Linked DNA regions of Homo sapiens: all the other regions are reported to be linked to region 3. Evidence: microRNA targets listed by miRTarBase, many of them from high-throughput screens and not tested one by one. Region 3 holds a microRNA gene; each other region holds the end of a gene's coding sequence.
What was found. The annotated mature microRNA hsa-miR-6722-3p reads UGCAGGGGUCGGGUGGGCCAGG and lies in region 3 at 1,288-1,309, opposite strand. An mRNA with a match to its seed (bases 2 to 7 or 8) in the 3' UTR can be bound and repressed. Matches are read on the target gene's strand: a 7mer-m8 pairs with bases 2 to 8, a 7mer-A1 pairs with bases 2 to 7 and ends in A, and an 8mer does both.

Region 1: the mRNA of MIDN is a reported target of hsa-miR-6722-3p. Seed matches in the 3' UTR shown: 7mer-m8 at 1,605-1,611 and 7mer-m8 at 1,621-1,627.
Region 2: the mRNA of HACD2 is a reported target of hsa-miR-6722-3p. Seed matches in the 3' UTR shown: 8mer at 1,518-1,525.

Annotation. Positions count from the first base shown.
Region 1 is chr19:1,256,801-1,260,046 of GRCh38, forward strand. MIDN (midnolin) reads left to right here. Exons shown (of 9, transcript NM_001388306.1): 9 at 195-2,343. The coding sequence ends at 472. Among named protein-coding and RNA genes, the nearest start is that of MIDN, 9.8 kb to the left of the region's middle. RefSeq lists enhancers at 2,191-2,340, 2,761-2,920.
Region 2 is chr3:123,491,982-123,495,227 of GRCh38, forward strand. HACD2 (3-hydroxyacyl-CoA dehydratase 2) reads right to left here. Exons shown (of 7, transcript NM_198402.5): 7 at 1-2,989. The coding sequence ends at 2,907. Among named protein-coding and RNA genes, the nearest start is that of ADCY5, 45 kb to the left of the region's middle.
Region 3 is chr9:136,745,616-136,748,818 of GRCh38, forward strand. MIR6722 (microRNA 6722) reads right to left here and starts at 1,355; the gene lies at 1,278-1,355. LCN6 (lipocalin 6) reads right to left here and starts at 2,910. Exons shown (of 7, transcript NM_198946.3): 1 at 2,779-2,910; 2 at 1,809-1,948; 3 at 229-299. The coding sequence starts at 2,868. LOC100128593 (a long non-coding RNA gene) reads left to right here and starts at 546. Exons shown (of 3, transcript NR_033913.1): 1 at 546-586; 2 at 1,463-2,957; 3 at 3,131-3,203.

The DNA of each region.
Region 1 (3,246 bases), not on the chromosome of region 3:
CAAAGTGCTGAGATTACAGGCGTGAACCACTGTGCCCGGCATGGTGGATGTCCTTGACTGTTTCCTTTGCTGACCTCCCTCCAGGGAGGGCAGGACTGTGTCTGACCTCAGGGGCATTTGCTGGGGTCTGGGGTGGTCCTCTGTGTTCAGCAGGTGGAGGCTTTGGGAGTCACAGGCCACTACCTCCTTTGCAGGGGACCGGCTTCGGCAGACAGAAAACCGCGCCACGCGCTGCAAGGTGGAACGGCTGCAGCTGCTTCTGCAGCAGAAACGGCTCCGTAGAAAGGCCCGGCGGGACGCGCGGGGTCCGTACCACTGGTCACCCAGCCGCAAGGCCGGCCGCAGCGACAGCAGTAGCAGCGGGGGCGGCGGCAGCCCCAGCGAGGCCTCCGGCTTGGGCCTCGACTTCGAGGACTCCGTGTGGAAGCCAGAAGTCAACCCTGACATCAAGTCAGAGTTCGTGGTGGCTTAGGATCTTCGGATCGGCCACCCTCGCCCCTCGCACCCCAGCCCAGGGCGGCGGGGACTCCGAGAGCCCCGGAGAGAACGTGGCCCAGCCCTGGAGGGCAGGCGGCCACTCCCCCAGCCAGAAGTCTTTTTTTCTTTTCTTCTTTTTTATTATTTTTTTCTTTTTTTAAAAAGTTCTGACCGTGGTTTCCTGGACTCTTCATGGGCTTTGCTTCCTACCTCCTTCACCCTTCACTCCTGCCCTCCTCTTCCTCCTCCTCCTCCTCCTCCGTCTGTCTCCTTTCACCTCTGCGCCAGGTCGGTCCTCCCTGCCAACCTTCCCCAGCTCCAATATGTAGCAGTCTCTCTGGATGGCGGAGAGTGAAGGAGACGGAGAAACGCGCCCCATCCCTTCCGCCGCCTCCTTTCCCCCCCGACCCTATTCAGGTTTTAAGTCAAAAATGTCGATATGTCATTATGCACTTTACAGATGAGGGGAGGGGCCGCAGTGCGCAGAACCCACCCCACCCCCCAGTGCAGACTTCGGGGTCTCCACCCCAGGCCAGCAGCGCCCACTGGGCTACAGCAAGCCAACAGGTCACAGAAGCCAACGAGGGGACTGTTTCTCTTCCACTCCTATCCTCTTTTCTTGATCTTTTTTTTGCATTTTCCTTCATTTCTTTAACAAGGAGAGCAAAGCTGTTTTAGCAGAGGCTGGGGCTGAGGTCCCCATGGGGTTTGGGTGCAGGGGCATGGCACCCTTTCCTGTCGGGAAGGGAGAGGGGAACTACCCCCCCAGCCTGCCCTCCGCCCCGCCCCAGCCGGCGGACTGTGCTGTTTCCTCCGCCCCCACTCCCGTGTTTTCTGACCTCCTGCCTGAGTTTGGGGTATTTATAGACTATTAATTTTCTGACTGAGCCAATAGTGGTTGGGGAACTCTTGAAAAAGGGGAGAGAATGGCTGGGTGCTGGGGAGTTCCCCCCTCCGAGCCCTCCTTCCCGGCCCAACCTGAGGGATGTGGATTTGGGACTGTCTGGGGGCCCCTCCTGCAGCGAGGATGGGAGGGGGTGCTGAGCTGTGAATCCCCTGGGCAGGGGGCGACAACTCCGTGTAGCATTAACCCCCGTGGCGGGGTCCGCTGCTGGTCTAATTTGGACCCCCTGCCTCTCAGTGCCCCTGCCCTAGGGGTGTCTGTCTCCAGAGGGGAGGGACAAATCCCCTACTGGGGCCATTTCAATGGGGTAGTTTTTGGATTTTTTTCCCCACTCACTTTTTATTTTTTAATGATAATGGAGATGTCTGGACCCTTCCTCACCCCACCTGTCGGTCTTGTCCTGGCTCTGCCTGTCCCCCACCGTTGTTCTCGTAGGTGAACCCCAGGTCCTCAACTCCCCCCCTTTATGTGTTGAAAGTTAATGGTTTCAGATGTGAACATCACGTGTTATAACTGTAGCGCTGTAAATTTTTTTGTGGGAGGGTGGGCAGGGAGGGGTCCCAGAGGGTAGAGCTCAAGGATTTTGGGTTTTGTTTTGTTTTCATTTTTCCAAAAAAAAAAGAAAAAAAAATAGAAAAAAAAGGAGTAAAAGGGGCGGGTTTGTTTTTTGAAGAACTGTCTTGGATACCTATTTAAATGTGTGTTCTGTTTTGTTTTTTAACGATTTTTAAATAACGTCTGTGCCTCCACTGGTTGAGGGTGGAACCTCCAGGCAGGAACCGGCTCGCCACCCTCTGCCCGGTAAGGGCTGCCCAAGAAAGCATTACCCGCCCTCGGGGGGTCGGGCTGTGGGGGTCCCGGCACCTGGCGTGAGTTTCATGTATGAAAACATAAAATTGAAAAAAAAAAAAAAACCTACACGAGCACCGTGATTTCAAGTAATAAACAGAAAATGAAACACACATTGACTCCCGCCTGCTCGCCTAGTGGGGGGATCTGGCCTTGGTTGGGAGGGTTCCTGGGGTGGGATGTCAGCTCAGGGAGTCAGAGGGACTGACCTGGGTCCCAAGGCCCCGAAGAGGGGGTGGGGCAGGGGTCAGGGCCCTGAGAATTTCCCACGCTCCTTCCCCGGCTGCCGGGTGGGCAGGAAGCAGCCAGGGTGGGAGGGAGGAGCCCAGCCACTTCCTGGTACCCAAGGCCGGAAGTCCCTTAGGGTGTGGGGCGAGGGCCTGCCTGCCTGCTTCGTGGCCTGGGCAGGACCCTGGCCCCCTCAGGACCTGCCAGTATGGGGGAGACGCGACCACCAGCTCTCCCCAGCCACAGGAGTCGGGGACTCCCACTCTGCCACACCCACCTGCTCCCCTTCCTGGAGTCTCACATCTGTGTGGCTTGCTGCAGGGAGATCACCAGGCCGACTGGGAGGACCTAGGACTCCGCAGGGTACCTTGGGCTGGCAGGTGATACAGGCCTGGCTTGACCCAGCCCTGGGGGGCCTCTCTGGCCACACCTCCTGACATTCCAGCCCTTCCCAGACCTGGCCTTCAGCTCCAAACCTCCCGGCCTTTGCCCCCTGTCTAGGAACACCCCTGGTCCGGCTGTCCCTTGCTGTCTGGGAACTTCCCCAGCCTGCGCCTTCCACCCCTGTCCACCCCGTCCCGCAGACCCCACCCTTCCCTCTCTCTGTCCCTAGCCTGGAGCTCCCCGTGAGCCTCACCAGGACTGAGTCCTCTCTGGGGTCCCACCTCCACCCATGTCCGGGCTGGGCAGAGATGAGGCAATAACACTATTTCATGTCTTTTTTTAAATTTTGTAACCTGTATTTCCTCAGGTAACAAGAGTTGCCTATGAGAAGTAATTGGGCTCCC
Region 2 (3,246 bases), not on the chromosome of region 3:
GAGGGCACGATCTCTTCTTACACCTCTTCAACTCTCCAGCATCTAAACCTTTCCTGTCAGAAGTCTGCTCTGGAGACTTTTTTCATCTGCAAGGACAGTGCTTTATTCCATGACTAACTCTCCATGGTGCCTCTGGATAATGGTTGGTATGTGTTAAATGAATAAGCCCAACCTCAGCAAACAGAACGCAGCAAGATGTAGATTAGCAGTCTGTGCTGACAAAAGCACTACTGCGGACCTCAAAGAATTCTCTGTCAGAAGAAGGCCCCCACGGAGGGATCTGAAATACATAATCAAGTGGGTAGTTGGGAGGATGATGCCTTTGACTATGCCCTGAAATGAAACCTCTAAGTCTGACAAAATACCCACAAAAACATGACCTTCCTTGTTCACACTTTATAAGAAGGTGTGACATTTGGTGGTGTGGTTGTTCTCAATTTATAAAATAATAAATGACTTCAAAGGAGAAATGAATTCATGTTAGGGATAAAGAAACCAGTTACTGAGAGAGGTTACTGAAGGACACAGTGACATGCCTTACTTATCTGCCATAAGTATTCTAAATGTTGATGTACAAAAATACACACTGGGGTTGAGACCCTTTTTGAAAAGGGAGCTGTGTGCTGTGTTCTCATTGCCAAAGTTCAATTCAATGCAACACCACTGTTTGCAACAGAATGTTTTTTATAAGTAGTGACAAATTATAATAAGGAGGCCCAAATAAAACCCCCAGTCCAGCAACCCTGGAAAAGCTGCATTTTTCATCCTGATTTCTAGAATTTTTCCAAAAACAACTGAAAAAATCTAACAGAACAAAGTAAATGACAAATATAACCCAAGTTGATTCTATTTTATAGTAGAAATACATTATGGAAGAATAAAATGAGAGAAAAGTCATGCAAAAAATCTTTCCCACATATTTTGTCTATCAAATACAAGAATAGATTCTAATTTCAACATGTCCAAGTTGAGTGCTGACTTTAAGAAGCAGAATTTTAATGTTCAATTCAAAAATAATTTATTACACACCTGCCTGCATTAAATTTTCAAACTTCTATAAAAATAAGCACTTAAAAATTTAGTTTTCCAGGGGTTGGGTGCAGTGGCTCATGCCTGCAATCCCAGCACTTTGGGAGGCTGAGGCGGGTGGATCACGAGGTCAGGAGATCAAGACCATCCTGGCTAACACGGTGAAACCCCGTCTCTACTAAAAATACAAAAAAAATTAGCTGGGTGTGGTGGCAGGCACCTGTAGTCCCAGCTACTCAGGAGGCTGAGGCAGGAGGATGGCGTGAACCCGGGAGGTGGAGCTTGCAGTGAGCTGAGATCGCGCCACTGCACTCCAGCCTGGGCAACAGAGCGAGACTCCGTCTCAAGAGAAAAAAAAAATTTAGTTTTCCAGTATGAGTTTTCTGATATTCGCAATTATATTTTAAATGACAACTACTCAATAAGCTAAACTTTTAAACTCTTAAAGTTCAACATCAACCCCCACCCTGCCCCCAAAAAAAGGCAGCTGCAGGGGATGGGGGAGGAAAAAAGGCTCCATGAAGAAGATACTGTGCTATTTAATACTTAATGCACATCTAAACTTGGGCTTTCACATTTTCATCCAACTCTTTCTTTCTTATTTTTTTTCAGTTTACCTACAGTTGCAGTACCAATCCTTTCTTGAGGAGTTTTAAATGCATGGTTGAGCAATTAAATTGTATGAGGATGTGACATGGATTAGACAATGTCGGTAGTACCAAACTATTTCTTGGCTGCTCCAACATGCGGAGATGACACTGCTTTTAGCTCATGACAGCCCAAGGGGAATGTTTTACTGACTATGGACTTATAGCTTGGTGGAAATTAACATAGGAAGTTAATTAGCAAAAGTATCCAAACAGAAGAGTGAATGAAAATTTAAAAATAAAACAATAATGGTGTATAAATCTATTCCTGAATGTTTTTCCTGACTACCTTTCTAAAGCAACACCTTCCATGTGCTTTCACTAACACAGCCTCCTTTCCTATGTGACTGGATCCGCTTCTTCAGGGCCATCAGTGCATCAGTGAGAATAGCTACTGGCAAACACGTTACTCAGAGGTGTTCTGAGAATGGTGCTGTGAAAAGGACTTGTCACTTTTGAGCTATTGAGCTCCCCCTTTCTGAGACCTGTCATTTTGTTAAGACATGATTGAGGCTGAGCTCCAGATAAGATATATTCTTTACGGTACACACATACTTATTAGATTCAAGCACGTTTCTTAGTGGCAGGCAGTAATGACTCAATTGGAAACAAACAAAAGGGTTCTAAGTTGTTTTCTGATTACAGGCACTACCCCGAAGCTTCATAGACATATACATTTTATAATTCATTCATTAGATGTGAGGGGATAGGTCCCAGCCATAACTTCAGAGCATTCCAGAGAACAGAGTTTGCCGCTTCAAAAATACAAAGTTTCCAGCATGCAGTCAAGCACTTTGACAAGGGAATGCTAAACACACTGCAGACTGAAACATAACTATACTGCAAGCTGGGCTATTCAGCTGGTACGACTTCATTATTCAGACTGTAACTCTCAAGTACTTAGTGTTACAGGTCTTCATTGATCAGATACATGAAGGACACAGAAGGACATAAAATGCCAAATCCCTTTCTAGTGCCATCATAAATATTAAGAACTTCTGGTTGAAAGAGCATGCTGAAATGAACTGGCCAGGGTGTTTTATGTAACAACCTTTTTCTAAAATAAAATCTCAGGCCCATGTGACACTGGATTTTTGTTTTAGTTTTGTTTGAATATTTTAAAAATAGTTCTTACTTATTTTCTATGAAACGTATTGGGAACTCAAAAAATCTGCAGCATTTTTTGATCATTGAAAAGTTTGTTTTGGTGGGAGGTGCAGAAAGCAGGAACTATTCAAATTTCTTGTGTTCTTCAGTATGAGAAAGGATCTTTCTTCTCTGGTGTATCATGTGGAAGTATAACTGGGGAAAAACTGAAAAGAAAAGAAAAATTGGTTAAGAGGATGGTTTAAAATTGCATATGCTCTATTTAAAGCATATGAAGTTGAGGTCCTCTCTGACCCTCTGACTAATTTCTCATCCAGCAACCAAGGAAGGTAACAAAGTGGGCTTGGGGAAAGGAAGAAAAAACACAGAGAGACTTACCTCCTTTCTTTTCCTGCTTTAGCTGAGGGAAGAAGTGGTGTGGAATACAATGACAGACACTATTGTCACTATCATGACCTATATC
Region 3 (3,203 bases):
TGGGGACCTTGGCTGGACCTCACTGGTGTCTGAGCCTGCTGGGAACAAGGTTCCAATCCTCTGTCCAGGGGCTTCTCTTCACCCTCAGGATGGGCAGCAATCCCAAGACCAGAACCTGTAGCCTCCTGGCTCTCGGGAGCGGAGTCAGCCCTCCGTCCCTGCCCGCAGGGGGCCTGGGGATGCTGCAGGGAAGAACGGCCTGGGTGAGGCCGTGGCCGTCAGACTCACAGGGATTCTCAAACACCCATCCGGAGTTTCGCTTTATCAGGTCCATGACACTCTGGTCACACCCTCCCAGCCTGGAAAAGAAGGGGCCTGTCACCCACTCAGGGTCAAGACCCCGGGGCCCGGTGAGAGGAGACGGAGCTCAGGAGTCCAGGCCAGGCCAGCCAGCAGTGAGGCCAGAGCTTCCATCTTCTGCCAGATGCCCCGATGCCCGGAAACCTGTTCTCGGAGAGTGGACGGCGTGGGAGTCCTGAGAGGGGCGGACACTCCCATTCACTTCCTGAGAGATCCTCAGTGCCAGATCTCCACCAGGAACGCTGAATGCTGCTGAGGACACAACAGGAGACTCGACAGACGGGAGGTTCGCCCGCGACTCGGGGGAAAGATGGGGTGGGGTGGGGGTTCGCCCGTGACTCAGGGGAAGGATGGGGCGGGGTGGGGGTTCGCCCGCAACTCAGGGGAAGGATGGGGCGGGGTGGGGGTTCGCCCGTGACTCAGGGGAAGGATGGGGTGGGGTGGGGGTTCGCCTGCGACTCAGGGGAAGGATGGGGCGGGGTGGGGGTTTGCCTGCGACTCGGGGGAAGGGGCCGGCGCTCCCTAAGTGGTCAGTCCCCAGAGTGAGCAAAACCCAGCAAAGGTGCAATGGTGTTTGCCAAGGAAGGAAACTGAGGCTGAGTCCATGCGGGAGGAACAGCAAGAAGAACTAGGAAAGCCACGTGGGAGCTGCCACCTCAGCCTGGAGCCCCTTGGTCCCAGCTCGCCCTGAGGCCAGGCCTGGCCCGGGGGGTGCAGTGGGGCCCCTGCCCATACCCTGCAGGCGCAGGTGCAGGGGGAAGGCACGCTGGTGAGGAGGGCAGGTTCTTCTCTCTGGGCCCCGTACCTGGCTCAGTGGTTCAGGCCTGGGCTCTGTCGCCAGCCTGCCAGGGGGTAGACACCCACCACGCCACCCAGCAGGCCACTCTTCTGTGAAGGGAGGCGGGCACCGACTCCTGCCCCAGCACGGCTACCCCCACAGCCCGGCTGCCCTGTAGGTGTCCCCTGTGTAGCACGGCCGCCCCACAGCCTGGCCCACCCGACCCCTGCACGCCGCCACCAGCCATGCATGTGGTCGGGTGCGCCTGCCTGAGGCCACAAGGCCAGTCTGGCCAACAGCGTCCATGACCATATTGTTTGGGGATTTATGTTATGAAAGAACCAGTGGTTCTTAGGTCCGAATGCATTATCCTCCTTTAAACAGAATTCCCGAAAAAGGCCTGCTGAGAGGACAGGCTTCCCCAGCTCTGACCACAGCCTGCAGCCCAGATGACCCAGGACAGGGATGCATGAAGGAGCATAGTCAGAGCAGTGCCCGCCGCGGTATTGAAGGTGGGAGTGCCACCTGGAGGCCCCAGGGACACAGATGTGAGTAGCTGGGCAGAGGGCTGGTGGCTCTGCACAGAGCCCAGTGGGAAAAGTGACGGGGGTGCAGAGGGGCCGTGGGAAGCCCCCAGGCCGCGGTGCCCGGGAGCAGATGTGCAAAGTACATGATGTGGCTGAGCCACAGTCCTGCCTGCGGGAAGGCCTGGCAGGACCCGCCCACTCACCCGTGCTGAGAGGACAGCGTCCGCAGGTTGTTTTCTGGAGTGAGGGTCACCACCACCCCCACGACGTTCTTCATGTCCTTCTCCATGGCAAAGCCCTTTTCCCGGGAGGCCACCGCAAGCACGTACCAGGGCCCAAGAAGCTGCATTGAGGCGGCTCCCGTTAGGGCCGCCAGCCCTCCAGCCTCCAGCCTCCAGCCTCCAACCCTCCAGCCTCAGCCTCCAGCCTCCAAACCTCCAGCCTCAGCCTCCACCCTCCAACCATCCAGCCCTCCAGCCTCCAGCCTCCAACCCTCCAGCCTCCAGCCTTCCAGCCCTGCAGCCTCCAGCCTCCACCCTCCAACCATCCAGCCCTCCAGCCTCCAGTCTCCAACCCTCCCGCCCTCCAGCCTCCAACCTTCCAGCCTTGCAGCCTCTAGCCTTCAGTTCTCCAGCCCTCCAGCCTCCAGCTTCCAACCCCCCAGACCTCCAACCCTCCAGCCTCCAGCCTTCCAGCCCTACAGCCTCTAGGCTCCAGCCCTCCAGCCTTCCAACCTCCAGCCTGCAGCCCTGCAGCCTCTAGTCTCCAGCTCTCCAGCCCTCCAGCCTCCAGTTCTGCAGCCCTCCAGCCTCCAGCCCTCCAGCCTCCAGTTCTACAGCCCTCCAGCCTCCAGCCCAGCAGCCTCCAGCCTCCAGTTCTCCAGCCCTACAGCCTCCAGCCCTCCAGCCTCCAGTTCTCCAACCCTACACCCTCCAGCCCTGCAACCTCCAGTCTCCAGCCTCCAATTCTCCAGCCCTCCAGCCTCCAACCCTCCAGCATCCACCCCTCCTGCCCTGAGGCTCCTGCCTGTGGGACTCCCCAAGGGCTGGCCCAACTAATTCCCCACTGCTCATGCTGGTCTGGGCTAGCCCTGGGGGGCCCAGAAGCTGTGTGGCCTTAAAGGAGGGGCTGGCCCCCGAGGACCAGCTCTCCCCACCCCCAGGAGGACTGTACCTGCTCAGGGTCCAGTCTTCCCAACCACACGGCCTGGGCCCTGGGCACCGAGACCAAAGCCAGAAAAGCAGCCAGCAGCAGGCCGCCCATCCTCCCAGGTCTACACTGCGCCGCAGGCCCAGGATGTGCAGTCCCTCCAGGCCCTGGAGACCCGTTTATATGGCTCTGAATTTCTCCGTGTGGGTGGCACTAACTGCCAGGAACCCTCCTGGCCTCCTGCAAAATTACCCAGGGGAGCACTGAGCAGTGGCAGCCTCTGAGCCCAGATCAGACCAGCTGCACAGCCAGGAGAGGGTCTGGAGTGTGTGGATCAACCATACTATACTGATCCCCTGCTTTCTTCCACCAGAAGGTTCCAGAATGGGCATCCTAAAGCCAGCCGCACCACCTCCCCCGTTCCTGGGGACCCACGCTCTCCCTCGCCC